3 linked regions of the Homo sapiens genome follow. The protein of the gene in region 1 interacts with the protein of each later gene in a pairwise test. Each region holds a gene or a part of one and is shown in the gene's direction. Other genes may lie near its edges. The genes, in order: UBTD2, MVP and TRIB3.

Evidence for each region.
Region 2: the proteins of UBTD2 (region 1) and MVP interact in binary tests that used the Homo sapiens proteins (3 or more experiments, as listed by UniProt).
Region 3: the proteins of UBTD2 (region 1) and TRIB3 interact in binary tests that used the Homo sapiens proteins (3 or more experiments, as listed by UniProt).

The regions. Positions count from the first base shown.
Region 1 is NC_000005.10:172,278,162-172,290,525, reverse strand, and holds the start of UBTD2 (ubiquitin domain-containing protein 2), read left to right. Parts: upstream 1-6,761; 5' UTR 6,762-6,860; coding exon 6,861-6,930; exon of another isoform or gene 6,931-6,934; intron 6,935-12,364.
Region 2 is NC_000016.10:29,842,556-29,851,076, forward strand, and holds the end of MVP (major vault protein), read left to right. Parts: intron 1-1,937; coding exon 1,938-2,324; intron 2,325-3,307; coding exon 3,308-3,424; intron 3,425-3,602; coding exon 3,603-3,729; intron 3,730-4,641; coding exon 4,642-4,830; intron 4,831-5,206; coding exon 5,207-5,434; 3' UTR 5,435-5,466; downstream 5,467-8,521. UniProt on the Homo sapiens protein: Required for normal vault structure. Vaults are multi-subunit structures that may act as scaffolds for proteins involved in signal transduction. Vaults may also play a role in nucleo-cytoplasmic transport.
Region 3 is NC_000020.11:388,247-399,707, forward strand, and holds the end of TRIB3 (tribbles homolog 3), read left to right. Parts: coding exon 1-55; intron 56-3,040; coding exon 3,041-3,333; intron 3,334-7,951; coding exon 7,952-8,444; 3' UTR 8,445-9,313; downstream 9,314-11,461. UniProt on the Homo sapiens protein: Inactive protein kinase which acts as a regulator of the integrated stress response (ISR), a process for adaptation to various stress. Inhibits the transcriptional activity of DDIT3/CHOP and is involved in DDIT3/CHOP-dependent cell death during ER stress.

The DNA.
Region 1 (12,364 bases):
AAAAAAATAGGTTAAATGGACTTCATTAAAATCAGCTGGTGCAGTGGTCCATGACTGTGGTCCCAATTCTTCAGGAGGCTGAGGTGGAAGTATGGATTGGGCCCAGGAGTCAGAGTCTAGCCTGGGTAACATAGTGAGACCCCCATCTCCAAAAAAAAAAAAAACAAACAAAAAAAGGAAACTACCTTTTGTGCTTCAAAAGACACTATCAAGAGGGTTAAGCAAGGAGCATTGGTTCACGCTTGTAATTCCAACACTTTGGGAGGCTGAGGCGGGAGGATCACTTGAGGCCAGAGTTTAAGACCAGCCTGGGCAGCATAGTGAGACCCTGTCTCTACAAAATATAAAGAAAATTAGCCAGGCATGGTGGCATGCAGCTGTAGTCCCAGCTACTAGAAAGGCTGAGGTGAGAAGATCATTTGAGCCTGGAAGGTTAAGGCTGCCGTGAGCCAAGATTGTGCCATTGCACTCCAGCCTGGGCAACAGAGCAAGATCCCGTCTCCAAAATTAAAACAAAAAAAAAGAAAAGAAAGTTAAGCCAGGTGTGGTGGCTCACACCTGTAACCCCGGCACTTTGGGAGGCTGAGGCAGGAGGATCACTTGATCTCAGTCGTTCGAGATCAGCCTAGGCAACATAACAAGACCCTATCTCTACAAAAAGAATTTTTTTTTTTGAGATGGAGTTTCGCTCTTGTTGCCCAGGCTGGAGTACAATGGCGAGATGTTGGCTCACCACAACCTCTGCCTTCCGGATTCAAGCGATTCTCCTGCCTCAGCCTCCCAAGTAGCTGGGATTACAGGCATGTGCCACCACGTCCAGCTAATTTTGTATTTTTAGTAGAGACAGAGTTTCACCATGTTGGCCAGGCTGGTCTTGAACTCCTGACCTCAGGTGATCCCACCCACCTCGGCCTCCCAAATTGCTGGGATTACAGGTGTGAGCCACCGTGCCCAGCCCAAAAAGAAATTTTTTAAGTTAGCTGGGCATGGTGGTGTGCACCTGTAGACCCAGCTACTTGGTAGACTGAAGTGGGAGGATTGCTTGAGCCAGGAGTTCAAGGCTGCAGTGAGCTATGATTGCACCACTGCACTCTAGGTTGGGCAACAGAGTGATACTTCATCTAAAAAAAAAAAAGAGAAAAAATTAGCCAGGCGTGGTGGCAGGTGCCTGGTATCCCAGCTACTTGGGAGGCTGAGGTAGGAGAATCACTTGAATTCAGGAGACAGAGGTTGCAGTGAGCCAAAATCACGTCACTGCACTCCACCCTAGGTGACAGAGCAAGACTCCGTCTCACACACACACACACACACACACAAAAGTAAAAAACCTGCAATAGGCTGGGTGTAGTGGTTCACACCTGTAATCCCAGCACTTTGGGAGGCCAAGGCGGCCAGATCACTTGAGGTCAGGAGTTCGAGACCAGCCTGGCCAACATGGCAAAACTCCGTGTCTACTAAAAATACAAAAATTAGCCAGTCATGGTGGTAGGCATCCGTAATCCCAGCCACTCAGGAGGCTGAGGCGGGAGGATCACTTAAACCTGGGAGGCAGAGGTTTCAATGAGCCAAGATCATGCCACTGCACTCCAGCCTGGGCTACAGAGCGAGACTTCATCTCAAAAAAAAAAAAAAATGAGCAAGTATCTTGAGTAGACATTTTTCCAAAATAGATATACAAGTGGCCTATAAGTACATAAAAAGATGCTCAACATTATTAGCCATTAGGAAAATCAAGTCAAAACCACTTTGGAAACAATTTGCCAATTTTTCAGAAAGTTAAACAGGGTTACCATATGACCAAGCAATTCCATTCCTAGGTATAAATCCAAGACAATTAAAAACATATGGCTACACAAAAGCTTGTACAGGAATGTTCATAGCAGCTTTATTCCAATACCCAAAAAATGGAAACAATCCAAATAACCACCAACTGATGAAAGGATAAACAAAATGTGGTACATCCATACAATGGAATATTGTCCATAAAGAGGAATGAAGTTAGTCTCAGCTACTGGGTATTGTGTGTGTTGGCGGCGGGTGGCGGGTTGGCGGGGGGGAGGCGGGGGGAGGTGGGAGGATTGCTTGAGCCTGGAAGGTTGAGTAACATGGTGAAACCCCATCTCTACTAAAAATACAAAAAATTAGCTGGGCATGGTGGTGCACACCTGTAGTCCCAGCTGCTCGGGAGGCCGAGGTGGGAGAATCACTTCAACTGCGAGGTTGCAGAGAGCTGAGATTGTGCCAGTGCACTCTAGCCTGGGTGACAGAGGGAGACTCCGTCTCAAAAAAAAAAAAAAGAGAAAGGTTTGTGGTCGCCTAGGGCTGGGGTGAGGTAGGGGATAGAATGAAATGGGGAGTGACTGCTAATAGGTACAGGGTTTCTTTTTAGGGTGATAAAAATGTTTTAAAATTCATTGACTATTGATATTTAGTAAATATACTAAAAACCATTGACTTGTACAATGTAAATTGGTGAAGGGGTGGGGGTGGATGGGGAAAAGGGAGATATTGATTCCAGAGTAGAAAGTTTCAGTTAGGTGGAATAGGCATTAGTGACCTACTGCACAGAATGGTGACTATAATAATGCACTGTATACTTCCGAATCGTTAACAGAGTAGATCTTAAATGTTTTCACCACAAAAAAGAGAAGCACGTGGACGGGGCGCAGTGGCTCGGGGCACGGTGGCTCACGCCTGTAATCCCAGCACTTTGGGAGGCGAAGGTGGGCAGATCACGAGGTCAGCAATTTGAGACTAGCCTGGCCAACATGGCGAAACCCCATTTCTACTAAAATTACAAAAATTAGCTGGGCGTGGTGGCAGGCGCCTGTAATCCCAGTAACTTGGGAGGCTGAGGCAGGAGAATCGCTTGAACCCAGGAGGCAGAGGTGGCAGTGAGCTCAGATTGTGCCACTGCACTCCAGCCTGTGCAACAACAAGACTACGTCTCAAAAAAAAAAAAGACAAATACGTGAGGTGATGGATTTGTTAATTAGCCTAGTCATTCCACATTGTAAACATGTATCTAAACATCACACTGTGACCTCATAATACAGTTATTTGTCAATTAAAAATAAACTGGTGAAATACATGGTATATGAATATCTTAATAAAGATACTATAAAACAGTAGAAAAGCACATGTGCACACACACACACACACACACAAAGAAGGAATTGTTTTGATAGAAAGTGCTATGCAGTCAGTTTTTTTTTTTTGGAGTCAGTCTTGCTCTGTGGCCCAGGCTAAAGTGCAGTGGTGCTATCTCGGCTCACTGCAACCTCTGCCTCCCAGGTTCAAGTGATTCTCCTGCCTCAGCCTTCCGAGTAGCTGGGATTACAGGCACACGCCACCATGCCCAGCTAATTTTTGAATTTTTAGTAGAAACGGGGTTTCACCACGTTGGTCAACCTGGTCTCAAACTCCTGACCACAGGCGGTCTGCCCGCCTCAGCCTCCCAAAGTGTTGGGATTATAGGCCGAAGCCACTGTGCCTGCCTGCAGTAAATTTAGATAGATGATGCTAGACATGAAATAAAGAGTTGATGAAAAGCCCCACAGAGTTTGGAGCATTATTTTTGGCCCAATTTTACAGGTGAGGAAACTGAACTCCACATAAACTTTTTTTTTTTTTTTTTTTTAGATGGAGTCTCACTCTATCGCCCAGGTTGGAGTGCAGTGGCAAGATCTCAGCTCACTACAACCTCCGCCCTCCGGGTTCAAGCTATTCTTCTGCCTCAAACTCCCAAGTAGCTGGGACTACAGGTGCGAGCCACCACGCCTGGCTAATTTTTTTTTTTTTTTTTTTTTTTTTGAGATGGAGTCTCGCTCTGTTGCCCAGGCTGGAGTGCAGTGGCGCGATCTCTGCTCACTACAAGCTCCGCCTTCCGGGTTCACGCCATTCTCCTGCCTCAGCCTCCTGAGTAGCTGGGACTACAGGCGCCTGCCACCACGCCCGGCTAATTTTTTGTATTTTTAGTAGAGACGGGGTTTCACCATGTTAGCCAGGATGGTCTCGATCTCCTGACCTTGTGATCCGCCTGCCTCAGCCTCCCAAAATGCTGGGATTACAGGCATGAGGCACCACGCCCAGCCTAATTTTTGTATTTTTAATAGAGATGGGATTTCACCATATTGGCCAGGCTGGCCTCCAACTCCTGACCTCGTGATCCGCCCGCCTCGGCCTCCCAGAGTGCTAGGATTACAGGCATGAACCACCGTGCCCGGCCAAACTTTCTTTTTTCTTTTTTTGAGACAGGGTCTCGCTCTGTCACCCACACTGGAGTGCAGTGGCGCGATCACAGCTTACTGTAGCCTCCACCTCTCTGGATTCAGGTAATTCTCCCACCTCAGCCCCCTGAGTAGCTGGGACTACAGGCGCTCACCACCACGCCCCGCTAATTTTTAAAATTTTTTCGTAGAGACAGGGTCTCCCTATGTTGCTCAGGCTGGTCTGAAACAGCTGGGCTCAAGTGAGCTTCCCACCTCAGCCTCCCAAGGTGCTGGGATCACAGGCGTGAGCCACCATGTCTGGCAGAAACTTCAGACCATATAGCTAGTACACGATGAAAGCCAGATTCCAATCCAGGAAGTTAATCGCCAAGCTGGGGCCCTGACTGCGACACTACTCTGCCTCCTGGGAAATGTGTCTCTAAGATAAAGGCAGGGTGGAGAACATCTATTGCTGAGAATCTCTCCCCGAGATTGCTCTCTCTTCCTAGTGCCAACTCCTCAGTGCTCATCGGAGAGCCCTCATCATTTGGGTGCCTACCATCTGTTTAATAGACATCGTGGAAGTCTTGGTTTCTGCAATTTCTAGAGTGAAATTCAGGACAAAGCAATCTCTTTGCAAATATTCGGCATGCAGCTTCTCTTCTTCAGGGAAGTGATGAAGTGATGTGTCTGCCAACGTGTATAGTTAGTTGAAAATGATCAGACAGAAGGCTTTGTGACACAGCCCCTGATGTCAGAGCAACCTCTGAAAACTCATAATAACATCGATGGCATAAGCTCTTTTTGGAATGTTCAGGACCACAACTGAGGACAATACTAATTCTTCAGGATGAGTTTAATATAGCAGATTTCTATATCTCACGACATTTCTGTGTTTTAACCTAAGTGTAGGTTTTGCTTGTCTACTGTCTTTTTATCAAATGAATACAGAGATCTAAATCTTTGTATAATAGCTTGATCTATTTCTGTGAGCTAGATTTCCAGATGTGGAATAATCCCGAGTCAAAGGATATGAACATTTTTAAGGCTCTTGATCTGCATTGCCAAATTGCTTTGCAAAAAAGATTGAACCAATTTACACTCCCACCAGCAATGTATGAGAATATATTTAAATGCAAATCCCAAGCTGCAGAGCATCTCTTTCTTAGGTATTTCAACTTAAAAAATTTTTTTTCGTGCTAAGCAAAAGCTGACCCAGGATGTTAAAAAAAGAAAGTCTGATATAAAAATGGAGCAGATAGTTAAAACAGCTTCTTAGGCAGAAATAAGCTTTAGAAAGTCCCAAGCAGGATGATAACAATTTTAAGGCATCATAGCACGAAGCACAATTCTAAAGGGACCATTAACAATTTGGCTGAGATTGGAAAAGTAACCGCCAAGAATGTTGGGCGTGGTCAATGTCCCAAATTCTAGATTCGAAAAGGCAGGGTGTTTCACTCATTTACACTTCACTTTGGCCTAAGGACGATTTAAGATACCCAAAGGCAGGATCTTGATAAGTAGTATTGTTTGAATCATTAATCCCGTGAAAATGAAAGAAACCCACGCCCCCTGAACTAAGGTCAGCGTTTATCTCTTCTTTCCAGGCGTTCCATCAGGACGCCTCGCCTCTAATCTCAGTTTGGTTTGCCACAACCACTGCCTCCACCCCTAATAATGGGGCCCCATGATTTTAGGGAAGACGGGGGTGGGCAGGCAAGAGGAAGCCCAGATTCGGGGTACCAACCCACGGAGCGCCATACAAATTCAAAGGGCGCTGGGACCTCAACGTTCGGCCAGGACACTCTCCCCCGAGCCCCCGTTATTTGGGAAACCGCCCCGTCCCCGCCTGCGAGTCTTCCACGACTACTTCTCGGTTCCCCCGTGCGACCCGCTTCCACCAGCAAGAAGGAGCCGACGGCCGAGGAGCCAGGAACTCGATTTCGCCCCTTCCCACTCCTCTTTTCTCACTTTTGTTCGGCTTTTTCCTGCTTTCCCTCCCTTCTTCCCTCTCCTTTCTTCTTCCCGTCCTCCCTCTCTCCTCCTCCCCTCGCCTCCAGTCCTCCCCCCGCCTGCAGTCCTCCCCCCACCTAGCCCCCTGCGTCCCCTCCCCCGCCTCACCCTCGCCCCGCTCCGCTCGCAGCCCCGCCCGCAGCCAATCAGAGCGCGGCCTCCGGTGGCCCCGCCCTTCTCCGGCGATTCCGGGCGGGCCGGGCCGAGCCCAGGCCGTGGGTGCGGAGGGCGGCGCCGCGGGCCGGGGGCCGATGGGTCCTGGCGGACGCGAGGCGCCGGCGCGGGGCTCGCCTGGACTCGGGTGTGCGGGGCTGTGAGGGGGCGAGGCGGGCGCTGCGGCCCGCCCGGGATGGGCCAGCCCTGGCCTGGCGGGGCTGAGCCGAAGGCGAGGGCGGCGCGCGGGCCAGGCCTGCCGGGCGGGCGGCCCGGGGGTTGAGGTAGAAGTGGGCGCGGAGGAAGGGGCCGAGCCAAGGCGGTGGGTGGAGCGGCGAGGGGGGCGGAGGCTGGGCCGCGGCGGGCGAGCGGAGCGGCGCGCCTGTCCGGAGCTCGGCGGTGGCGCCGGAGGAGGCTGCAGCGGCGGCGGCGGCGGGCCCGGACGAGCGTCCGGAGGTGGCGGACGAGGCGCCGGGGGCCCCCATGGGCGGGTGTGTGGGCGCCCAGCACGACTCCTCGGGCAGCCTCAACGAGAACTCGGAGGGCACCGGAGGTAGGTGAGCGCCAGGGGGCAGCCTCGGCCCCCCATTGTTCCCGGCCAGGCCCGGCCACCTGTCCCGACCCCCGCGGGCCGCGCCGGGCCCCCGCGCCCCTTTGTCATCCCCTCTTCCACGTCATTCCCCGCGCTCCGCTTCCGGCTGTCCTGCCAGCCGCGGGGGTCGCCCCTTCCCGCCCCAGCCCTGAAGAAAAGTCCTCTGAGCGCCGGGGACGTAGCCCTTGGCCTCGCCGACCGCCCCGCTCGGCTCGGGGAAGTCGGACCCGAAGCTGCCCTTCTGGCCACCTCACTCCCTCTCCAGGCCGTTTAATTATTGAGGATCAGGATGGCGGCGCCGGGGTTGCAGAAAAGCGAATTGATGGCGGGGGGAGGGAGCTTGATGCGTTCCCTCCGACGGGCCCCGCCACATCTTTCCGCACCCTTCCTTGTTCTGTGGAGTTGGCTGGTCTCAGCTTTCCTGAGTTTCAGATGACAGCTGCCCCGGTTGGTTCCAGATTGGCCATTTAAACCTGCGAGTTTCTGGAGCTCGGCTGGAGGAGTCTCCAGTGGCCGCAGGCATTGTATTAAGGAGGGGTGGGGAAACGGTCTTCCCGGGTAAAACGTGGCTCCTAGCTAGAGCTTGGGGGTGTTAGGCCGGTGTGCTGTCGGGGTGGGCTAATCACATTCCCATCTGTCTTACGTAGAAGGAAAATATGTAGGATAAAAGTACAAGTGCAGTTGGACCCTGACTTACCCCACCCAGTAAGATCAGTACTTTAAAAGTTTTCTAACACGGGAACGCACTCCTACTTTATAGTAAAAGCGTGCTGAGGATAGGTATTTTAATTCAATCAGTAGTAGTTGTAGTATGGCAGTATAATAATAAAATTAGTTCTATCTTTATTTAAGTGACCTTTGGTTACGTCCATTCTGTAGAATATTTTAGTGATAAACAGCCTTTAGGCAAAGATGACAGCGTTGGTTTGATTTGTGACCTAATGTTAGCTGCCTTAAAATGTGCATGTCTGTAAATTTTTAAATTGTTTGGGTATGGGAGGGTTTACAACTTTTTCGTAGCATACTAACATTTAGACCAGTTGCTTGCCCTGTCACTTAAGCTCTCTTCACAAACCATGTACACCTAAGTTTTTTGGCTAATGGATTTCCTGAATTCCATGATGGTTAGCCATGCCACTTTATTAAAATCTGTGGGTATCCTGTATGACTAAATCCTGGGTAAATAACTTGAGAACTCAGTGGAAGTTGTCTTGAAAAAGTCCATGAAAATGCTACTTTATAGTGTATTTTATGTCGTAGCATTATTACTGGCATATTGAGATCCTCAGTGACAACAAAGCAGGAAGATAAAAAGGGCACGATTTAAAACAGCCTTGGGTTAAGGTGAAATTGAAGGATCAAAATGAATCTTCCTCTAATTGTGTTGATCATTAATGATTCTGAAATATATTAGTATTTGTTATCGCTAGTGTTTAGTTTTAATTAAATTTTTTTCACACTCATTTTAATATTGTCATAAGCATTTTGCTCTTCTCCGTAATGTATGTGGATTAATTTATTTAAGCCTTTTGGTAGTGTGACTTATGACCAGACAGGCATTATTAATATGGGCTTTAAAAAGCGTGAAATCTTAGCTTTGGGTAATTTATTACCGGTGGTATCCAGTTAGATAGCTATAGTATCAGTTTCTTTGAGGACTGAGTTCTCTGGACCGTAAGCTCTGCTGTACATGAAGTTTAGAAAAAGGAACATTAACCACCAAACGTCTTTATTTTCTTTTGGAGAGAGGACATGGGCCCTGATGTAACTGGGGTCAGGGAAGAGGCTCTTGTACTAAAAGGATTATTTCTGGAATTTGATTATGGACGCTTTTATTCTCCATTATTGTCATGATAATTAAGAGTTAATTGTGGTTTAGTGAAATTAACTCAGGTGTGTTGCAGGTTAACATATAAAAAAAATTATTGCTTAATAAGTAGATTGTTGGGAAGGGAAAGACTTTTTCCTAAGGGTGTTGGCACAGATCCCTAGCTTTTCAAACATACTGTGGTAGTGAGTTAGGTTTGGGGGATGTGTGGAGGGCTTGGTTTGGTTTCTCGAGACAGGTTCTTGCTTTATCGCCCAAGCTGGAGTGCAGTGCCAGATCACAGCTCACTGCAGCCTTGACCTCCCAGGTACAAGTGATCCTTCTACCTCAGCCTCCCAAGTAACTGGGACCACGAGGTGCATGCCACCGCACCCGGCTAATTTTTAAAAAATTTTTAGTAGAGGTGGGTTTTGCCGTGTTTTTAATCTGAATGTGTTGGGTTATGAAAGTTGTTTTATCAACATGGAGTCTTCACATGCTTCTTACAACGGATTTAAACTTTCCATGACAGATTTAATTACATTCACCAACCAGGCGGGGTGGCTCATGCCTGTAATCCCAGCACTTTGGGATGATGAGGCGAGAGGATTGCTTGAGCCCCAGGAGTTGGAGACCAGCCCAGGCAACATAGTGAGACTCTGTCTTTAAAAAAATAAACAAAATAATTACATTCACAGTGTTGTGCAAACATCACCATTTTAGAATAGCTTGACCCTTTCTAAATATCAGCCAGCCTTAGTAAGAAAAAGATTTTAAAAAAATCTTTTGACCATTTGAAATACTATACTTTCCTTTTTCCCTCTGAATCCATCTCTTATGTATGCAAGTAATTATGTGTATATCAATAAAACCTTCCTTATTAGGTGTATTCTTTGAAGGAATTTGGGAGATTTTTATAAGAGACTGTAGAATATGGAAGTGGCTTAATTCACATTATAAGCTTTGCATTATCTATTGTTTTGGGATTAATTGTTGTATTTTCCTTTGGCATATACCTTGCCTAGAATTTAGTTCTTGAGCTCCAGCTACTTAGGCTTTTTTCAAATAAAAAAACTTTTATTTTTATATTTTGTTATTGAGATAGTATCTTGCTCTGTCACCCAGGCTGAAGTACTGTGGCATGATCATAGATTACTGCAGCCTTGAACTCTTGGGCTCAGGCAGTCCTCTGGCCTCAGCCACATGAGTAGTTAGGCTGGTTTTTTTTTTTTTTTTTTTTGAGATGGAGTCTTGCTCTGTCGCCCAGGCTGCGGTACAGTGGCACGATCTCTGCTCACTGCAGCCTCTGCCTCCCAGGTTCAAGAGATTCTCCTACCTTAGCCTCCAGAGTAGCTGGGATTACGGGTGCCCACCACCATGCCCAGCTAATTTGTTGGTATTTTTAGTAGAGACGGGGTTTCACCAGGTTGGCCTGGCTGGTCTTGAACTCCTGACCTTTAAGTAATCCGCCCACCTGTGCTTCCCAAAGTGTTGGGATTACAGGTGTGAGCGACTGTGCCCAGCCTTTTTTTTTTAATGCCTACTTTTAATCAAGACAGGTATGTCATAGAAGTTATGTAAGATTATTTAACAGTTCTAAGCTTCCATGCTCCTAGAATTTCCCATTGTTTTGACTTTTTTTTTTTTGAGACGTCGTTTCACTCTTGTTGCCCAGGCTGGAATGCAATGGCACGATCTCAGCTCACTGCAAACTCCGCCCTCCCGGGTTCAAGCAGTTCTCCTGCCTCAGCCTCCCAAGTAGCTGGCATTACCGGCGTGCGCCACCGTGCCTGGCTAATTTCATATTTTTAGTGGAGATGGGGTTTCACCGTGTTGGTCAGGCTGGTCTTGAACTCCTGACTTCACGTGAGCCACCTCGCCCAGCCTGTTTTGACATTTTCAGACATTCTGTATGGTTCTCCGCCGTACTAGAATGACATTGTGATGCTGGAGTTGGCATTTAGGACCTCTAGACAAGCCTTTAGCCATGACATTTGCTAAGGAATTAAATCCTTTATGATTTTTTGAAATAAATATGTGGGCAGAAAATCCAATAAAATTGTATTAATTGAAGACAACCAACAACCTTTTCTTTCTTCACCTCTTTAATGAAAGTATAGTGATGTACAAAGTAACTTCTCACTTTCTGAGTGTGTCATTTATTTTGTGCATTCAGTGATATCCTAAGAGAACTGACCGTGGTGGTCACAAGTTTCCAGGTTTACAGAGAATAACTGAATGCTGGACATTCATTCCTTTAGTCTCTATTCCAGAATGTCTTGAGAACATCATGGAGTTCTTTCAGATACCCATTTATAGCAGCCTTACAGACACCTACTCAGTGAGTAACAATGGTTTTTGAATAGCATCTACCATTTATCCAGTATTTATTATGTAACAGGTCCTAACAACCTTATGAGGTGGATAGTATCTCTGTTTCATAGATAAAGATTGAAGCCAAGAGCAGTTATTACGTTAGTGCAAAAATAGTTTTGTTCTTTGCCATTACTTTTAATTGCAAAAACCGCAATTACTTTTGCACCAACCTTTAATAACTTGCTCATCATCACATAGCTTATAACTGGCAGTCAGAGCTTAAACCCAGGGCTGCTATAAAGAATGCTAGTTTTCTGTTTTTCCGTAGTTTACTTTTTTTAAATTGTGACAAAATTGGCCAGGCCCAGTGGCTTACGCCTGCATTCGCACCACATTGGGAGGCCAAGACAGGTAGAGCACTTGAGGTCAGGAGTTCAAGACCAGCCTGGCCAACATGGAGAAACCCCATCTCTACTGAAAATACAAAAATTAGCCGGGTGTGGTGGTGGCGAGTGCCTGTAATCCCAGCTATTCAGGAGGCTGAGGCAGGAGAATCGCTTGAACATGGGAGGCAGAGGTTGCAGTGAGCCAGGATCACGCCATTGCACTCCAGCCTGGGTGACAGAGTGAGACTCGGTCTCAAAATAAATAAATAAAAATAAAATTGTGGCAAAACATATAACAATTACCGTCTCAACCATTTTTAAATGTGTAATTCAGTGGCATTGATTATATTCACAACGTTGTGTGGTCCTATATGTAGAATCATAAAATATTTGCCCTTTTGTTTGTGGTTTATTTACTTACCATAAAGTCTCCCGTGTTCATCCTGTTGTAGCATGTATTTGTACTCTATCCTTTTTATGGCTAAATAATATTCCATTGTATGTATATACCGCTTTTTTTTTTTTTTCCCCTGAGGCAGAGTCTCACTCTGCCTAGGCTGGAATGCAATGGTGTGATCTCAGCTCGCTGCAACCTCTACCTCCCAGGTTCAAGCGATTCTCCTGTCTCAGCCCTCCGAGTAGCTGGGATTATAGGTACGCACCACCACGCCTGGCTAATTTTTTGTATTTTTAGTAGAGACGGGGTTTCACCATGTTGGCCAGGCTGGTCTCCAACTCCTGCCCATGTATATACCACTTTTTTTTTTATCCATTCATCTGTTGGACATTTGGGCTGCTTCCAGATTTTGGTGTGAATGATGCAGCTCTGAACTTTGGTGTACAAGTGTCTGTTTTCAATCTCTGTTTCCAGTTCTTTCAGCTGGAT
Region 2 (8,521 bases), on another chromosome or scaffold:
CGGCTTCCCAAAGTGCTGGGATTACAGGCATGAGCCACTGCACCCGGTCAACCCTGTTTCAAAACAAAAAAAACAAACCGGGTGGCAAGCAGTGGGTGAGGGTTCCTGCTGGGTGCAGCCTAGGAACCCCAAGAAAAGGAGGGTCCTGCTCAAGTGCTGGTGCTGGGCTCCTCATGAAGGCAGGACACCTCATTCAGTGCTGAGGTCAAGAGGGAACCTAGGAGTTCACGCAAATCCAGGGAAGGCGTGGGCTCACCTCCTGGGGTCAGGACTCAGGGATCCAGTAGCAGGACACTACCCCAACTAAGCTCCCAGTGAGCGTGCAGCCAAATGCGTAACTGTCGGGCTGTTAAAAGATGCATGGGACACAGCTGGCGGGAGTGGGCAGTGCAAGGGGGCGGTGAGAACTCAAGTTCAGAAACTGACTGCCCTGGCCTGCGCCCCCGCCCTGCTGTTTGCAGCCTGTGGACCTGGGGAAGGGACAGGGTGCTTTCCTCAGTTTCCCCATCTGTAACATGAGGAAGACAGCATTTTCTCCTTCACAAGGCCATTGAAAAGATGCAATGAGTGTTAGAACAGTGCCTCTATTGGTCAGAGCTCAATAGCAGCTATTAGGATTGGGTGAGATAAGTCATGTACAGAAACAGTGTTCATGACTGGGTACTGTGGCTCACACCTGTGATCCCAGCACTTTGGGAGGCTGTGGCAGGAGGATTGCTTGAGGCCAGGAGTTTGAGACCAGGCTGGGCAACATAACAAGACTCTGTTTCAAAAAAAAAAAATTTATAAACTAGCTGGGCATGGTGGTACATGTCTATAGACCCAACTACTTGGAAGGCTGAGGTGGGAAAATTGCCTGAGCCCAGGAATTTGAGGCTGCAGCAAGCTATGATTGTGCCACCACACTCCAGCCTGGACAACAGAGACCCACAGAGACCCTGTCTCGGAGGAAGGGAGGAAGGGAGGAAGGGAGGAAGGGAGGAAGGGAGGAAGGGAGGGAGGGAGGGAGGGAGGGAGGGAGGGAGGAAGGGAGGAAGGGAGGGAGGGAGGGTCAGGCGTGGTGGCTCATGCCTGTAATCACAGCACTTTGGGAGACTGAGGCAGGCAGATCACTTGAGGTCAGGAGTTTGAGACCAGCCTGGCCAACATGGTGAATCCCTGTCTCTACTAAAAATACAAAAATTAGCCAGGCCTGGTTGTGGGCACCTGTAGTCCCAGCTTGTAGTCCCAGCTACTCAAGAGGCTGAGGCAGGAGAATCTCTTGAATCCGGGAGGCGGAGGTTGCAGTGAACCCAGATCGAGCCACTGCACTCCAGCCTGGGCGACGGAGCAAGACTGTCTCCAAAAAGAATATTCAATACTCCCAAGCATGTCCCTCACCTCTTAGCTGAGAGCAGCCAGTGCCCTGATGGCGGCAGACAGCTGCCGACATATTCCCAGGGCTGCCGACATATTCCCAGGCACTACAACATCATAGTTAAGAGCACAGGCCCCAGAAGCAGCTGCCTGGTTCAGCTTTCTGGCTTGTCACATGTTATATGGCAAGTCTTGGGCCAGCCACTTGACTTCCCTGGACCTCTACTTCCTCATCTGTAAAATGGGGGTGGTGATCATTGCCATCTCATAGGGTGGCTGAGTGGGATTAAAGGAGAACGTGTGTTAAGTTTTTAGGACCTTACCAGGCATACATTAGCATTCTCTATTGCGAGAGACCCTGCCCGGCCACACAGGATGGGTGTTGAAGTTCTTCTCGGAGAGAGTTGCTGGCTGGGCGTGATCACACATGTAGTCCCAGCACTTTGGGAGGCTGAGGTTGGGGGGTTGCCTGAGCCCAGGAGTTCAAGACCAGCCTGGGCAACATGGCAAGACCTTGTCTCTTCTAAAGAGAGATTCCTGGGTGAAAGCAGCTTCCCCATTCTGGGCCTGTTTGTTCACAGGCACTTTGAGGTGAATGACCGGAAGGACCCCCAAGAGACGGCCAAGCTCTTTTCAGTGCCAGACTTTGTAGGTGATGCCTGCAAAGCCATCGCATCCCGGGTGCGGGGGGCCGTGGCCTCTGTCACTTTCGATGACTTCCATAAGAACTCAGCCCGCATCATTCGCACTGCTGTCTTTGGCTTTGAGACCTCGGAAGCGAAGGGCCCCGATGGCATGGCCCTGCCCAGGCCCCGGGACCAGGCTGTCTTCCCCCAAAACGGGCTGGTGGTCAGCAGTGTGGACGTGCAGTCAGTGGAGCCTGTGGATCAGAGGACCCGGGACGCCCTGCAACGCAGCGTCCAGCTGGCCATCGAGATCACCACCAACTCCCAGGAAGCGGCGGCCAAGTAAGTGAGGCTGGGAGCTCGGCTGCCTATAATGCCCATGGCAGGCCACTGCTGGGAACTGGATAACCTGGCATCCCTTGTGGACTGCCTGCTGCCATCCCTACCCTCAAAGATCTATTCCCTACCCAACAGATCAGGTGACCCACTTAAAATGTGAATCAGGCTGGGCGCGGTGGCTCATGCCCGTAATCCCAGCACTGTGAGAGGCTGAGGCAGGAAGATCACTTGAAGCCAGGAGTTTGAGGCTGCAGTGAGCCATGATTGCGCCACTGCACTCCAGCCTGGGCAACAGGCCTGGGAGACTGACCCTGTCTCAAAAGAAAAAAAAAAAAAAAAGCACGTATCAGATGTGGCTCCTGCAGCCTCCCATCTTGCATGTGATAAAACCTAAACTCCTTCCTGCAGCTCCAGCCGGCCTCCCCCGATTTGCCTTCTAGCCTCCCCCTTCCATGCTCCTCGTCCCTGGAACATGTTCCAGCTGACATGTTCCAGCCCCACTGGCTTCCTCTGCTCCTTCAATGCACAGCTTGGACCCACCTGAAGGCCTTTTGCAATGGCTATTCCTGCTGCCCAGAAAGCTTCCCCCCGCCCCTGAGCTCCCTTCCAGGCAGGCTTCTCCTTCTGGCTTCAGCCCAAAGATCCCCTCCTTGGGGAACACTTTTCTTTCTCTCACAGCTGAATAGCACCCTCTTTGCCTGGTCTCTCCCACACTTGTCACTGTCTGAAATCCTCCTTGTATACTTGTTCTTTTCCCACTCAAGTGGCGTGAAAGTAGGGGGCCGCAGTCACGCCTGCATTTGTCCGGCCTAGAATGACACTGGCTTGTGGCGCGTATACCATTCTGGGTTGAGTTGCGTATTGGGTGCCTTCTAGGGGCTGGGGTCTGTCCTGGGCACCGGTTTGGTTGGTGGCCGCTGCCCTTGGCGCTCCTGTTCCTGCTCTGGCCCCATGCCAGCCTCTCACCTGCGCTCCGTCTCCTCCAGGCATGAGGCTCAGAGACTGGAGCAGGAAGCCCGCGGCCGGCTTGAGCGGCAGAAGATCCTGGACCAGTCAGAAGCCGAGAAAGCTCGCAAGGAACTTTTGGAGCTGGAGGCTCTGAGGTGGGTTGAGAACTAGAGGAGGAGACTGGCAGGGGCCGAGGGTCTTAGGACAGCAGCTGGTGTGGGCAGCAGGCCTGGGTGGGGTGTCGATGAGACAGTGCACGGCTACAGCATAAGCCAAGGCCGTGGGGGGACTGGGCTGTCTCCCGGGTCTTACCTGACTCTGCCTTCTCCCCAGCATGGCCGTGGAGAGCACCGGGACTGCCAAGGCGGAGGCCGAGTCCCGTGCGGAGGCAGCCCGGATTGAGGGAGAAGGGTCCGTGCTGCAGGCCAAGCTAAAAGCACAGGCCTTGGCCATTGAAACGGTGAGTGGGGGGAGGCATTAAGAAGAGGGTGGCCTTGAGTCCTGGAAAAGGCCCATTCCCTACAGTCCCTGAGACTGTATAGGACACCAGGTCCCCCAACATAAAGCCCTATCCAAGTACTTTGCATTTGCAAAGTCCTTTGCCTTGTAGGATTCATTGACTCCATTGCTGGAAGGTAAGGATTAGAACACCCATTTTGCAGCTGGGCGCTCATGCACTGGCCACCTTGGCACAAGTGCTGTGTATGCTTCATAGGCATTATCTTATTTAATGCTTGAAATCCCATTAAGAGGCCGGGTGCAGTGGCTCACGCCTGTAATCCTAGCACTTTGGGAGGCCGAGGCGGGTGGATCACCTGAGGTCAGGAGTTCAAGACCAGCTTGGCCAACATGGTGAAACCCCATCTCTACTGAAAATACAAAAAATTAGCTGGGTATGGTGGCATGTGTCTGTAACCCCAACTACTTGGTAGGCTGAGGCAGGAGAATTGCTTGAACCCAGGAGGTGTGGAGGCTGCGGTGAGCTGAGGTTGTGCCACTACACTCCAGCCTGGGCAACAAGAGTGAAACTCCATCTCAAAAATAAAGTAAATAAAAATAAATGTAAAAAGAGGCCTAGTGTGGTGCCTCAGGTCTCTAACCCCAGCACTTTGGAAAGCTGAGATGGGAGGATCATTTGAGGTCAGTTCGAGACCAGTTCAAGACTAGCCTGGGCAACATAGCAAGACCTCATCTCTACAAAAACAAAATTTTTTAATTGACTGGGTGTGGTGGCACATGCCTGTAGTCCCAGCTACCCAGGAGGCTGAGGCAGGAGGATCCTTTGAGCCAGGAGTTCAAGGCTGCAGTGAGTCCTGATCTGCATTCCAGCCTGGGTCAAAAAATAAAGAATGATTGATTTTTCCTCTTCCAGGAGGCTGAGCTCCAGAGGGTCCAGAAGGTCCGAGAGCTGGAACTGGTCTATGCCCGGGCCCAGCTGGAGCTGGAGGTGAGCAAGGCTCAGCAGCTGGCTGAGGTGGAGGTGAAGAAGTTCAAGCAGATGACAGAGGCCATAGGCCCCAGCACCATCAGGGACCTTGCTGTGGCTGGGCCTGAGATGCAGGTGAGAGTTGGGGAAGGTGTGTTGGTTTCAGGACCAACCTTGAAACCAGGAAGGCAGAGCCAAGGCGGAAAACACAACATCTGGAAAGATTGTGGGGAAGGGAGGGGTGAGTGACCTGACCCACGATGCAGGGACATTCACACAGTGTCACGCTGCATCAACGTCAGGCACTGTACTAGACCCAGCAGTGAGCCAGAGCTCCGGAGGAGACAGGAAATGGATGGGACGCCAGTCTGACAGGCATTTCCAAGGCAGTCAAGCAGGGTGGTCAGATGCAGGGGAGGTGACCCTTCAAACCAGCTGACTTAAGGAGGGTCACTCTGAAGTGGCCAGGGTTTGACGCCCATCTCAACTTCCTCCTGTTCTCACCCTCCAGGTAAAACTGCTCCAGTCCCTGGGCCTGAAATCAACCCTCATCACCGATGGCTCCACTCCCATCAACCTCTTCAACACAGCCTTTGGGCTGCTGGGGATGGGGCCCGAGGGTCAGCCCCTGGGCAGAAGGGTGGCCAGTGGGCCCAGCCCTGGGGAGGGGATATCCCCCCAGTCTGCTCAGGCCCCTCAAGCTCCTGGAGACAACCACGTGGTGCCTGTACTGCGCTAACTCCTGATTAATACAATGGAAGTTTCTGGGCATTTACAATTTCAACACTTTTCTCTTGTCTGACATTGGTTGGGGTTACCAGGGAGCTTAATGGTGGGGAGGGGAGGTGCCCCTGGCATCTTTTTTTTTTTTTTCGAGCTGGAGTCTTGCTCTGTCACCCAGGCTGGAGTGCAGTGGTGTGATCTCTGCTCACTGTAACCTCCACCTCCCAGGTTCAAGTGATTCTCCTGCCTCAGCCTCCTGAGTAGCTGGGATTACAGGCACGTGCCACCACGCCCAGCTAATTTTTGTATTTTTTAGTAGAGATGGGGTTTCACCATGTTGGCCAGGCTGGTCTCGAACTCCCAACCTCAGGTGATCTACCTGCCTCGGCCTCCCAAAGTGCTGGGATTACAGGTGTGAGCCACTGTGCCCGGTCAACATCTTTAGATAGTTACAGGAGACTCTTCTCCTCCATAAAGGGGAGAGGACCCCGAGGCAGGGGAAGGATGAGCTGGAAGTCACCCAGTAGGAATGTGGCCCCAAAGCCTTGTGCACTGGGCTTCCTAGAGCCCAGATAGGGGTGATGATGCCACGGGTGGGGGCATGGGGCCCACAATGGCAACATCTCACCACTGGTTCTCCAGGAGCCCAGCTGCCTGGTAGCTCTCAGCTGTTGCAGATGCAACCCAGCTTCCCATTCGGGAGGCGCCCTCCAGCGCCACCTGCTGGAGCACCCACAGCACCAGCAGACGTGTCAGGCTTGCACCCGGTGCTGTGCGCTTGTCCCTTCCCAGGTGGGGGTGTCAGGTTGGGGAGGAGGACCCTGCCTAGGGCAGTAGGAATTGGGCATCTCCTTGAGCTTCCGGTCTGGGCTGTTTGGGAGCACTGAAGGAGGAGTGCCCTTATCCCACCTTCTCCCCCACAACCAGTATGGGGTCCTCATTTGAGAGAAGGATCCAGGTGCAGTCAGCCTGGGTGCACTAGCCCTTTGGGGCCAGGAACAGTTGTAGGTGCCAGGCCTGCCCCGTCTCTGCCGAGGAAGTAAAAAGATCCCAGGGGCCGAGTGCAAGAGCTTAGGCCTGTAACCCCAGCACCTTGGGAGGCCAAGGCACAAGGATCACTTGAGACTAGGAGTTCGAGACCAGCCTGGGCAACATAGCAAGACCCCCATCTCTACCAAAAAAAAAAAAAAAAAAGCAAAAGCCAGATGTTATGGCATGCATCCGTGTTCCCAGCTACTCGGGGGGCTAAGGTGAGAGGATTGCCTAAGCCCAGAAGTTGGAGGCAGCAGTGAGCTATGATCATACCACTGCAGTCCAGCCTGGGTGACAGAGGGAGACCCTGTCTCTATAAAAAAAAACAAAACAAACAAAACCCTTAAAGCCTCCCTAAAGCCCTCATTTTCACCTTCCTGTAATATTGAGTGGAAAAAGCCCGATCCCCCCTTAAACCACCTCCCTCCCTCTCTGCCCTGCCCCTGACCGTTGCTGCAGGAGGAACACCCCACGGAGCTGACTGATCTTATTTTAAACTCATGGGAACAAATTTTGAGGGAGGTGCAGCTTCTCTGGCTGTGCTGCTCTGTCTTGTGTGCGATCCGCTTTGAGACAACCATTCACACCACCTCTCCTCTCAGCCTCCTACACCCCTGCCCACTTTCTCTCACCTCTTTGAGAAAATAGAAGCAAATTGGGTAGGAAGGCCCTTCCCAGCAACAAACCTAACAAACTGCTGGCATCTAGACTGTCCTCCCTCCTCTTCCCACCCTGGGCTCCTCCCCTTGGGCTCTAGGAGAGAGGGCTGCATTCCTTCACTGATTGCCGTCCTCTCCTGTGCTGTCAATTTTTTTTTCTTTTTTTTTTTTTTCTTGAGACTGAGTCTCGCTCTGTCACCCAGGTTGGAGTGCAGTGGCGTGATCTCAGCTCACTGCAACCTCTGCCTCCTGGATTCAAGTGATTCTCCTGCCTCAGCCTCCCGAGTTGCTGGGACTACAGTCATGCACCACCATGCCCTGCTAATTTTTGTATTTTTGGTAGACATGGGGTTTTGCCATCTTGTCCAGACTGATCATGAACCCCTGACCTCATGATCTGCCTGCCTTGGCCCCCCAAAGGGCTGGGATAACAGGTGTGAGCCACTGTACCCAGCTGATATGCCATCAATTTCTTCTCTCCTGCATCATCATCATCAGGATATAGACATGTCTACTCTGTCCATATAAAACAACTCCCTTAACCCTATGAGCCCCTCTAACTTCCACCTCTCCTTTTTCCATCACAGCCAAATTTTTCCAGAGTTCTCTGTGGTCTCACTTTCCATTCCTCATCTCTCATTATCTCTTCAAACCACTCCAGATAGGGCCAAACGTGGTGGCTCACGCCTGTAATCCCAGCACTTTGGGAGGCCGAGGTGGGTAGATCACCTGAGGTCGGGAGTTCAAGACCAGCCTGGCCGACATGGTGAAACCCTGTCTCTACTAAAAATACAAAAGTGAGCCAGGTGTGGTGGTGGGTGCCTGTAATCCCAGCTACTCGGCAGGCTGACGGAGGAGAATCGCTTGAACCTGGGAGGCAGAGGTTGTAGTGAGCGAGATTGCGCCATTGTACTCCAGCCTGGGCAACAAAAGCAAAACTCCGACTCAAAAAAACACCCCAGTTTGCTTCTGTCTCTGCCCCTTACTTTATGGAAACTGCTTTATTCGGCATCACCAGTAATGTCCCGTTGCTAAATCCAGTAGTTGATCGGTCACTTGGCACAGTTGGCCATTCCTCCCATGCTGGGCTTTCCTGACATCACCTGTTCTAGTTTTCTTTCTCGCTTCTCTCAGTAGGTTCCCTAAGGCCCACTTCTCATGCTGACATTCTTGTCCAATCGCATGACCTCAGATGGTCTCTATACCACTGACCTCAGAATCCATTACTCCAGCTCCGACCTCACCCAAGAGCTCTGGACTCATTTCCAATCCATGCCTTGATGTCTCCACGTGGACCTCAATTGGTGATCAGGCTTTGGCTCTTGCCAATGAAATGCAAGGGGAAATGACATCACATGCCTGTTCTTCCCTTTTCCATATAAATGGGTGACCAGCAATGTTCCAAGTGGAAG
Region 3 (11,461 bases), on another chromosome or scaffold:
CGGGCGGGCCTACCAGGCCCTGCACTGCCCTACAGGCACTGAGTATACCTGCAAGGTACGTGCCCATGGGCGGCTGTCCCCCAGCACCACAGGAGGCCTGGGAAGGAGGCCTCCAAAGGATTGCCAGGGTGCAGAGGGGTCCTTATGTTCATTCATTCTTGTGTTTGTTTAGTGGGGAAGCATCCAGGGAGCCCCTGCTGGACTGATACTAGAGAGGTAAACCAGAGGTCGTCCCAGTCCTGGGGGAGTTCACAGCTTAGGCCCTACAGTGTGATAAATGCTGCAGGGGTAGAACTTAGGGATCATGGGCGCAGAAAAGGCCGAGCAGAAGTTAGCCAGGTAGAAGTGGGAGATGGGAGTTGCAGGCAGGGGGAACAGCTGTTCAAAGGCCTAGAAAAGTGAGGGGATAGCACTTTAGAGAATGAAAAGGACTTCTCTGTGGCCAGAGTGGAGAGGATGTGCAGAAAGGGGCAGGAGATGAAGGTTGGCAGCAGCTGGTCATGAAGGTGTTAACAAGGGGCCTCCACTGGGCTGTGCGGAGCTACTGAAGATGTTTGCACAAGAGAAGGGTAGGGCATGGTAGACATCAAAACTCCTGGGACCTCGGAGGTGATCGAGCCTAACCTGGGGCCATTTTACAGATAGGAAGACTGAGATGAAGACAGGAGAAGGGCCATGCGTGAAGTCACATAGCACTGGGCCTGGCTCCTGGGGTAAACTAAGGGGTAGAAAAGTCTGAGGATTCCTGGCAGAAACCAGGAAATGGACAGGGTCAAGGCCCCTGAGGGTCAGCCCATGCAGGACACTGACAAGTGACAGTCCAAGAAGACAGAGATGAGAATAAAAAGTGTAACAATAGGTATTCACTGTGCACCAGGTACTATGATGATTGCTTAGTGTGCACAATCTCTTTTAATCTTGACACAACCAATGAGGTGGTTTCTATCATTGTGCCCCTTTTATAGATAGAGGACACTGAGACTCAGAAAGCCATGGTTACTTGCCACATGACAGAGCCAGGTGGTATCAGAGCTGGGATTGGGCCCAGGAGGCTGAGCCCAGAGAGTCCTGTGCCCGTGCTAGGATAAGCGTTTCACACAATCAGGGCAGGCTGCCCTGGCAGGCAAGCATAAGGAAGATAAGGGGGACCTGGAAACCCAAGGGAGAGTAGCGGGGGCCTGGGTCCCTTGGGAATGCACAGAGAAGCAGAAGGACTTAAGCCTCCTCCTGGGGCAGCAGCAGAGCTTTGCTCTGTTGACGGAGATGCAGTGAACAGCGGGGCAGATCCAGACAGGGTCCAGCCCCTAGCTTCACCTGGCCTCTTGTGCACAGATCTCCAGCGCCCTTACCAGGTGCCCTAAGGAGCCCAGAACTCTGGGTCCCCTTCCTGCAGCATCACAGGCTCTTTTCCACTCCCGCTGGGGAGGTGAGTCCATGATAAGAGGAATAACCCAAGCAGGCTCAGGAGAGAAGCGCCATGCGTTCACAGGGCCCTGATTCTCAAGAAACATTTGGGAAAATCCACTGGAACATACTCACCCCTATGCCAATGTGCACCATGGGTGCTGAATGGTCATTTCCACACTTCCTCAGCTTTTCTGGTCAGTGTGTAGAAAGATCAAAATCTTGTCTTTGTAAATGATCAACTTATTCATTAATTCAACACAACTTCATTGAGCACCCGTATTTGCCATGTACCATGCTGTGGTTAAAAAACAAAGTTCTGTTCTCATCAAGCTGACGTTCTAGTGGGAGATACAGACACTAAACAAGCGAATAAGTAAAATACGTGTCAGGTGGCCGGGCGCGGTGGCTCACACCTGTAATCCCAGCACTTTGGGAGGCCGAGGTAGGCAGATCACCTGAAGTCAGGAGTTCGAGACTATCCTGGCCAACATGGTGAAACCTTGTTTCTATTAAAAATACAAAAAATTAGCCGGGCATGGTGGCAGGGGCCTGTAATCCCAGCTACTCGAGAGGCTGAGGCAGGAGAATCTCTTGAACCTGGGAGGTGGAGGTTGCAGTGAGCCGAGATCACACCACTGCACTCCAGCCTGGGCAACAAGAGCAAAACTCCGTCTCAAAAAAACAAAAAACAAACAGGAAAACCCTTATTCCAGCATCTTTCTTGGTTCCTTTGCAATGCTTATCAGCATTTGTCAATATTTGGTTTCTGGGCATGTTTGCATGGCCTCCCAGTGGGCACCGGAGAGCAGAGCCCATGGCTGTCAGTCTAGCTGGACATGTGGCTGGCCCGTGCAGGCCCAGGGCCAGCATACTGAATGAATGAAAGCGTGGGTGGGCAAAGAGGACGGGAGCTGTGACGGTGATGAGCATCAGGTGCCTTCTGCATCATCCGCCCTTCCGGATTCCTCCTGCTTTGTGGGTTATTTTTCTGTTTGGGTGACCTGTTACTTTTCAGTTATCCGATGTTTGAGGCCATATAGCGTAGCAGTTAAGAGCACAGACAAAAGGCCGGGTGCAGTGGCTCACACCTGTAATCCCAGCCCTTTGGAAGGCTGAGGCGGGAGGATCACCTGAGGTCAGGAGTTCGAGACCAGCTTAGCCAACATGATGAAACCCCATCTCTACTAAAAATACAAAAATTAGCTAGGTGCGGTGGCACATGCCTGTAATCCCAGCTACACTGGGGGCTGAAGCGGGAGAATCACTTGAATCCAGGAGGCGGAGTTTGCAGTGAGCTGAGATTGCGCCAGTGTGCTCCAGCCTGGGTGACAGAGCGAGACTCCGTCTCAAAAAAAAAAAAAAAAAAAAAAAGCACAGACAGTGGAGTGCATACGTGCAAATCTCAGCCGTGCTGTTTGCTGGCTGTGTGGCCTCTCAGCTTCGTTAACCGTAAAATGGAGCAAGTCATCCTACCTTATAGGACCATGGTCAGGGCTGAGTGACTCGGTCAGTGAAGCGCTTGGTGCGATGCCTAGCACATGGTAGTGTCTAATAGGTCAGCTGTGACTGTTTGCAATGCCAGCCTCAGCTCCCGGGAGTCCCCAGCTGTGCTAACACCATGCTCTGCCCACAGGTGTACCCCGTCCAGGAAGCCCTGGCCGTGCTGGAGCCCTATGCGCGGCTGCCCCCGCACAAGCATGTGGCTCGGCCCACTGAGGTCCTGGCTGGTACCCAGCTCCTCTACGCCTTTTTCACTCGGACCCATGGGGACATGCACAGCCTGGTGCGAAGCCGCCACCGTATCCCTGAGCCTGAGGCTGCCGTGCTCTTCCGCCAGATGGCCACCGCCCTGGCGCACTGTCACCAGCACGGTCTGGTCCTGCGTGATCTCAAGCTGTGTCGCTTTGTCTTCGCTGACCGTGAGAGGTGAGTGTGGTCTCAGAGACCCCAGCCACAGACACACCCAGGGGGTGGGCCATGATGGAGAGAAACCGAGGCCCAGGAAGGCAAGGTAACTTAGGCAAGAAGTGGGAGAAACTGAAGTAACCAGCAGCCCCTGTTTAGTTCCCTGAGAAGAGTTGACTCAGGCCAGGTGCAGTGGCTCACGCCTTTAATCCCAGCACTTTGGGAGGCCGAGGTGGGTGAATCACTTGAAGTCAGGAGTTCGAGACCAGCCTGGCCAACATGGTGAAACTCCGTCTCTACTAAAAATACAAAAATTAGCCTAGTGTGGTGGCGCACACCTGTAATCCCAGCTACTCTGAAGGCTGAGGCAGGAGAACTGCTTGAACCTGGGAGGCGGAAGTTGCAGTGAGCCAAGATCACGCCACTGCACTCCAGCCTCGGCAACAGAGTGAGATTCCATCTCAAAAAAAAAAAAAAGAGTTGACTCAGTCCTCTTGGGAGCCCCTTGGGATTCTGGGATGGAGCACTGAGATGTGAAAGTCATAGTAGCCGACAGTGACGAAAGCATCGCCACATTATCTAACGTGGTCTTCCATCCTTACAAACACGAGGCAGGTACTGTTATTATCCCCATATGATCAAGGAAACTGAGGCCCAGAGAGCTCAAGTAACTTGCCCAAGATCCCATAGCAGAATAAATGGTAGAGCTGGGATTTGAACCTAGATCTGACTCCAGAGCCTGGGTCTTAATTCAATCTGAGCTTGAGAGGCAGGGGCCTGGCTGGGCTTACCAACTGACTTTGGGTGACCTAGTGTCTCTGAGCCTCAGTTTCTCCGTTGGTAAGGAAAAGGGCTGGATTGTTAGGGTGTTTTCAGGATTCCAAGACCACAGCCAAAATAGGGTCTGAGGTTCCCCACACGGGAACGTTTTCTGTGAAACTGAGAATTAGCACTTTTTGGTTAAAAGAATCTTCCTTCTCTAGGTTGGGATGCTAAGAATTTTTTTTTTTTTAATTGAGACAGAGTCTCACTCTGTCACCCAGGCTGGAATGCAATGGCGCGATCTTGGCTCACTGCAACCTCTGCTGCCTGGGTTCAAGTGATACGCCTGCCTCAGCCTCCCGAATAGCTGGGACTACAGGCATGCGCCACCATGCCTGGCTCATTTTTTCTATGTTTAGTAGAAACGGGGTTTTGCCATGTTGGCCAGGCTGGTCTTGAACTCTTGACCTTAGGTGATCCGCCTGCCTCGGCCTCCCAAAGTGCTGGGATTACAGGTGTGAGGTACTGCACCCAGCCTAGACGCTAAGAAAAATTTTTAAAAGATAATTCTGGGGAGAAGGGCAGAGAGACTCGCCTCCTGTTCCCTCTCCAGATTCCTGGGGGCAGTCAAGATGTGTCAGGGAGTGCACTAAGCTGCCAGTTACACAGGAGTTTTCTGTGGAGAAAGGAGTGTGACCCCATGGCATTTTAAAAAACTTTTTATCTTGAAATAATTTTAGACTTTTAGAAAACCTACAAAAATAGTTCAAAGAGTTTCTGCATATCCTTTAACCAGTGCTCTCCAATGTTAACACCTGACGTAGCTATGGTACAATTACCCAAACTATTAACTAAGCCACAGATTGATTCCCACTTCCCGAGTTTCCCACTAACACCCCTTGCTGTGCAGGATCCAGTGAGGATCCCAATTTAGTCATCAGTGGTTTCCTTGGTCTCTTCCAATCTGAGACAGTTCCTCAGTCTTTCCCTGTCTTTGAAGACCCATGACCTTGACACTTTTTTTTTTTTGAGACAGGGTCTCACTCTGTCACCCAGGCTGGAGTGCAGTGGTGTGATCACAGCTCACTGCAGCCTCAACCTCCCGGGCTCAAGTGATCCTCCCACCTCAGCCTCCTGAGTAGTTGGTTCTACAGGTGTGTGCCACCCCACCTGGCTAATTGAGATGGGGTCTTGCTATGTTGCCCAGGCTGGTCTCAGACTCCTGAGCTCAAGCAATCTGCCTGCCTCAGCCTCCCAAAATCCTGGGATTATAGGCGTGAGCCACTGCTCCTGGCCATAACCTTGAGACTTTTGAAGAGTACTGATCAGTTACTTTGTATGTCCCTCAATTTGGATTTGATTGATGTTTTCTCACAGTTAGATTGCAGTTATGTATTTTTGGCAAGAACAACACAGAATCGATAGGCCCCTCTCCACATCATATCAAGAGATACTTGAGCTGATAGTCATTCCTATGTCGTGACCTTGATCACTTGGTTAGGGCAGGACCTACCAGGTTTCTCTACTGTAAGGTCCTAATTTACCCTTTGTAATTGACAAATACCTTGGGGGAGGTAAGCTAGGCATATAAATATCCTGTTTTTCCTCAACTTTCACCCACTAATTTTAGCAGCCATCCATCTTGCCTATAGCAGTTATTATTGTGGTGCTTGCCTAAGTCTAATTTTCTTTTTCTTTTTTTTCTTTCTTTCTTTTTTTTTTTTTTTTGAGACAGAGTCTCGCTCTGTTGCCCAGGTTGGAGTGCAGTGGCACGATCTCGGCTCACTGCAACCTCCACCTCCCGGGTTCAAGTGATTCTCGTGCCTCAGCCTCTTGAGCAGCTGGGATTACAGGCACACACCACCACACTTGGCTAATTTTTGTATTTTTAGTAGAGATGGGGTTTTGCCATGTTGGCCAGGCTGGTCTCGAAATCCGCCTGCCTTGGCCTCCCAAAGTGCTGGGATTATAGGCATGGGCCGCTGCGCCCAGCCCCCAAGGCTGATTTTCTGTTAATATTTCCTTCTACATTTTATATTAGAACAAGCATGCCTTTTTTAAAGAAGTAACATTTATAATGATGTTTAAGCTAGTACATAACTTCAAACACATTTTAGGCTTAGGGTAGATACAACTACCCCGGACCTCCTGGAGGAGACAGCGTGCTTCCTGCTCTTTTCAAGAAGTCACTTGATGGCCCACACCTGTTATCCCAGTGCTTCGGGAAGCCAAAGTAGGAGGACTGCTTGAGCCCAGGAGTTCGAGGCCAGCCTAGGCAACACAGAAAACCCCATCTGTACAAAAAATTTATAAAAATTAGCCAGGTGTGGTGATGCACACCTGTGATCCCAGCTACTTGGGAGGCTGAGGCAGGAGGATTGCTTGAGCCCAGAAGTTTGAGGCTGCAGTGAACTAGGATTGCACCACTGCACTCCAGCCTGGGTGGCAGAGTGAGACCCTATCTCTAAAGAAAAAAAAGAAAAAAAAAAAGAAAAATCACATGAGAGTCATTGGTAGAAGAGGGACCGTGAGTTAGATAGACCTGTGTTTAAATCCTGGGTTCTGCTTCTTACCTGCTTTTTGGCCCTGAGCAAATGACTTCACCTGCCTGAGCCTTTGTTTCTTCATCTGTAAAATGGGCTAATAATGCTGACACCCCTTGTCCCCCAATACTGTGATTCATAGGATTGGTCAGTATTTGTGAAATGCCACTGGACACCCAGGAAGTAATGCCATAAAGAAGAAACTAATAGCAGTGGTAATAGAATGATTACTATTAAAGTCATCTTTGAGTGCTCAGTGGAAGTTGTTTAAAGTAGAAATTGCAAATGGCAGGACACACTTTTTTTTTTTTTTTGAGACAGGGTCTCACTCTGTCACCCAGGCCGGAGTGCAGTGGCGCGATCTCAGCTCACTGCAACCGCCACCTCCTGGGCTCAAGTCATATCCTTCTGCCTCAGCCTCCCAAGTAGCTGGGACTACAGGTGCGAATCACCATGCCTGCTAATTTTCGTATTTTTTGTAGAGATAGGTTTTTACCGTGTTGCCCAGGCTGGTCTTGAACTCCTGAACTCAAGTGATCCCCCTACCTCGGCCTCCCAAAGTGCTAGGATTACCGGCATGAGCCACCGCGCCCAGCCTTACACACTTTTTTTTTTGCCCTGCTTACCTGTTTGTGTTTTTTATATAAACTGGTTGCCAATATTTTTTAAATGGGGACCTTTTCATTAAAATACAATTCCTGGCTTCTCTTGGGGAAAACAATGGGAATGTGGGGCCATCTTGGGAACTGCGAGGGTGGGTCACAGCACTGGCTCTGAGTATCTGCCAGCCAGCGTTCCCATCCCAGGCCCATGCTCTACAGCTGTAAAATGGTGTCTTCCTTGCAGGCTGTAGCCTAGATAGAATGAGGTGAGCCAGGTAATGAGCTGGGTCAAGGGCCAGGAACACAGCAGGCACTTGGTAAACCCTAGAATGCGTTGTGTACCCTTTTTAGGTAGCGCTTGTGCTGAGATGTCAGGCACACTTCCTGTTTCTCTCATCTTATTACCTGCCTGGACCCTAAGTTTGTAGCTGGTTTAAGAGAGGCTTAACCCTCTCAGCCCCATCAGCCCCCTCCCCAAGGGACTCTGTTGAAAAATGTATTCCTTTCAGAATTTTAGTTTAAATTTAATTGCTCTGTGGCCTTAAATGACTTAACCTCTCTGAGCCTGGGCTTGGGTATCTGTAAAACAGGATCAGACATCACAGGACTGGCTTGTGTCTGTCAAAGGCCAGCAGGCACTTGGAAAGTGGGTGCCACAAGGGTGATAGCATGGGGTGGTGGCATGGGGGTTCTGGGTAGGACCTGACCCTTCTGTTTCTCCCCATGTCCCAGGAAGAAGCTGGTGCTGGAGAACCTGGAGGACTCCTGCGTGCTGACTGGGCCAGATGATTCCCTGTGGGACAAGCACGCGTGCCCAGCCTACGTGGGACCTGAGATACTCAGCTCACGGGCCTCATACTCGGGCAAGGCAGCCGATGTCTGGAGCCTGGGCGTGGCGCTCTTCACCATGCTGGCCGGCCACTACCCCTTCCAGGACTCGGAGCCTGTCCTGCTCTTCGGCAAGATCCGCCGCGGGGCCTACGCCTTGCCTGCAGGCCTCTCGGCCCCTGCCCGCTGTCTGGTTCGCTGCCTCCTTCGTCGGGAGCCAGCTGAACGGCTCACAGCCACAGGCATCCTCCTGCACCCCTGGCTGCGACAGGACCCGATGCCCTTAGCCCCAACCCGATCCCATCTCTGGGAGGCTGCCCAGGTGGTCCCTGATGGACTGGGGCTGGACGAAGCCAGGGAAGAGGAGGGAGACAGAGAAGTGGTTCTGTATGGCTAGGACCACCCTACTACACGCTCAGCTGCCAACAGTGGATTGAGTTTGGGGGTAGCTCCAAGCCTTCTCCTGCCTCTGAACTGAGCCAAACCTTCAGTGCCTTCCAGAAGGGAGAAAGGCAGAAGCCTGTGTGGAGTGTGCTGTGTACACATCTGCTTTGTTCCACACACATGCAGTTCCTGCTTGGGTGCTTATCAGGTGCCAAGCCCTGTTCTCGGTGCTGGGAGTACAGCAGTGAGCAAAGGAGACAATATTCCCTGCTCACAGAGATGACAAACTGGCATCCTTGAGCTGACAACACTTTTCCATGACCATAGGTCACTGTCTACACTGGGTACACTTTGTACCAGTGTCGGCCTCCACTGATGCTGGTGCTCAGGCACCTCTGTCCAAGGACAATCCCTTTCACAAACAAACCAGCTGCCTTTGTATCTTGTACCTTTTCAGAGAAAGGGAGGTATCCCTGTGCCAAAGGCTCCAGGCCTCTCCCCTGCAACTCAGGACCCAAGCCCAGCTCACTCTGGGAACTGTGTTCCCAGCATCTCTGTCCTCTTGATTAAGAGATTCTCCTTCCAGGCCTAAGCCTGGGATTTGGGCCAGAGATAAGAATCCAAACTATGAGGCTAGTTCTTGTCTAACTCAAGACTGTTCTGGAATGAGGGTCCAGGCCTGTCAACCATGGGGCTTCTGACCTGAGCACCAAGGTTGAGGGACAGGATTAGGCAGGGTCTGTCCTGTGGCCACCTGGAAAGTCCCAGGTGGGACTCTTCTGGGGACACTTGGGGTCCACAATCCCAGGTCCATACTCTAGGTTTTGGATACCATGAGTATGTATGTTTACCTGTGCCTAATAAAGGAGAATTATGAAATAATTTTATTTTTCTCTGCAATTTCTTCCATCCTTTCCAACGATCTCTTACCAGTTTTTCCTGCCTTCAAAACTGGCCCCCATGGTGAAAGGCCGTAGAGTTGTGTCTTAACCTGGGCTGAGTGGTTTGTGAGAACAGATTACCTGGAGCCCAGTGGGTCTTCCTGCACTCCTTCTGTTTCTTCTGGCAGCAGCAGTGTCTCTATTAGGGTACTTTCTGAGTCAAAATGGCTTCAACAAGATGGAAATATGTTTCACACAAAACAAGAAGTCAGCAGATAGGGTGGGCTTCAGTGCTGGTCCATTCAACTCCCAAAGCTGCGCACAGGGACCCCGGCTCTCCAGGCTCCTTCTGTCTCTTGGCTGTATTGTCTCGAGACTGCTGGCCCAATGGCTACAGCAGGTGTCACATTAAAGAGGTCCATGACCAGAGGAAGAAGCCAGGGGTCATTGTAGTACCTGAGAACTCAGAACTCTGGAGTCAGGCTGCCTGGAATTAAATCCTGGCTCCAGCACTCAATAGCTGTTTGACCCTTGGCAAGTTTCTTAACCACTCTATGCCTCAGATTCTTCATCTGTGAAATGGGGGACAATGATAGTACCTAACTTATGAGAACTAAATGACTTATTTTGTATAAAGCAATTAGAACAAGCAGCGCCTGGCATAATAAGCCCACAATAAAAGTTACTCCCGGCTGGGCACGGTGGCTCACGCCTGTAATCCCAGCACTTTGGGAGGCCGAGGTGGGCAGATCACAAGGTCAGGAGTTCAAGACCAACCTGACCAACATGGTGAAACCCCGTCTCTACTAAAAATACAAAAATTTTTAGTAGAGACGGGGCGTGGTGGTGCGTGCCTGTAGTCCCAGCTACTCGGGAGGCTGAGGCAGGAGAATTGCTTGAACCCGGGAGGTGGACGTTGCAGTGAGCCAAGATCCCGCCACTGCACTCAGCCTGGGCAAGAGAGCGAGACTCCGTCTCGAAAAAAAAAAAAATGGTGCTCCCACATTTCTTTCTTGGGATGGAGGAAGCTTTCCCAGAAGCGCTCCTGACCGACTTTCCCACACATCTCACTGGTCAGAACTGCATCACTTGCCGTTTCTGACCAATCACCAGCTTACATTCATGGGGCACGTGCTTACACTAACCATGGCACTCCTCGAGCTAAGTGGAGCTCATGCGTCATATGGAGGGGTAGTGACTCCTGAGCAAAACCAGGTTCAAAGAGGGAGGGGATCGTAGGGAAAAGAATGTGCGGAAGTGCGGAGGCCCAGCCAACAGCCTGCTAACTGCAGATACTCGAGAGCGGCCACCCTAGATCATCTGACCCAGGCTGGCCCACGCTAGAATTGCCCAGTGACCCGCAAGGTCATGAGCTAATTGAGCTAAATAAAATCATTGTGTTTTTTTGTTTGTTTGTTTTGTTTTTGTTGTTTTGTTTTTTGAGACAGAGTCTCACTCTGTCACCCAGGCTGGAGTGCAGTGGTGCGATCTTGGCTCACTGCAACCTCTGCCTCCCGGGTTTTCAAACGATTCTTCTGCTTCTGCCTCAGCCTCCCGAGTAGCTGGGATTACAGGCACGCGCCACTACACCCGGCTAATTTTTATATTTTTAGTAGAGACGGGGGTTTCGCCATGTTGGCCAGGCTGGTCTCCAACTCCTGACCTCAGGTGATAGGCCCACCTCGGCCACCCAAAGTGCTGGTATTACAGGCGTGAGCCGCCGCACCCGGCCAATCATTGTGGTTTTAAGTCACTAAGTTTGAGGCTATTTTGTTTTACAGCAAAAGCTAACTGATGCAGACAGGGACAAGTCAGTCTCATCTCTGTGCACCCAGCATTGCCCAGAACAGGGCCTAGTTGTGTCTAGGGTCTCATGGGGCAGCCCCTGACCTCTATCTTGCCCCTCCCAGCTTCCAACAGACCCTGTCCCAGCTCCCTCCAAGCTGAGTGTTGGCCTGATACCTACCAGTGGAGCGAGGGGAACACGAGGACTGCCAAGGGCAGGTACCGTGCCAACCCTTCACTCCATTCCACAAAGAGACTCATTTACTCCTCATGACAATCCAGTGAGGCAGATGTTCCTGTCACTTTACAGATAAGACAAATGAGCTTTAGAGAGAGCAGAAGACTCATCCAAGACCTCACAACA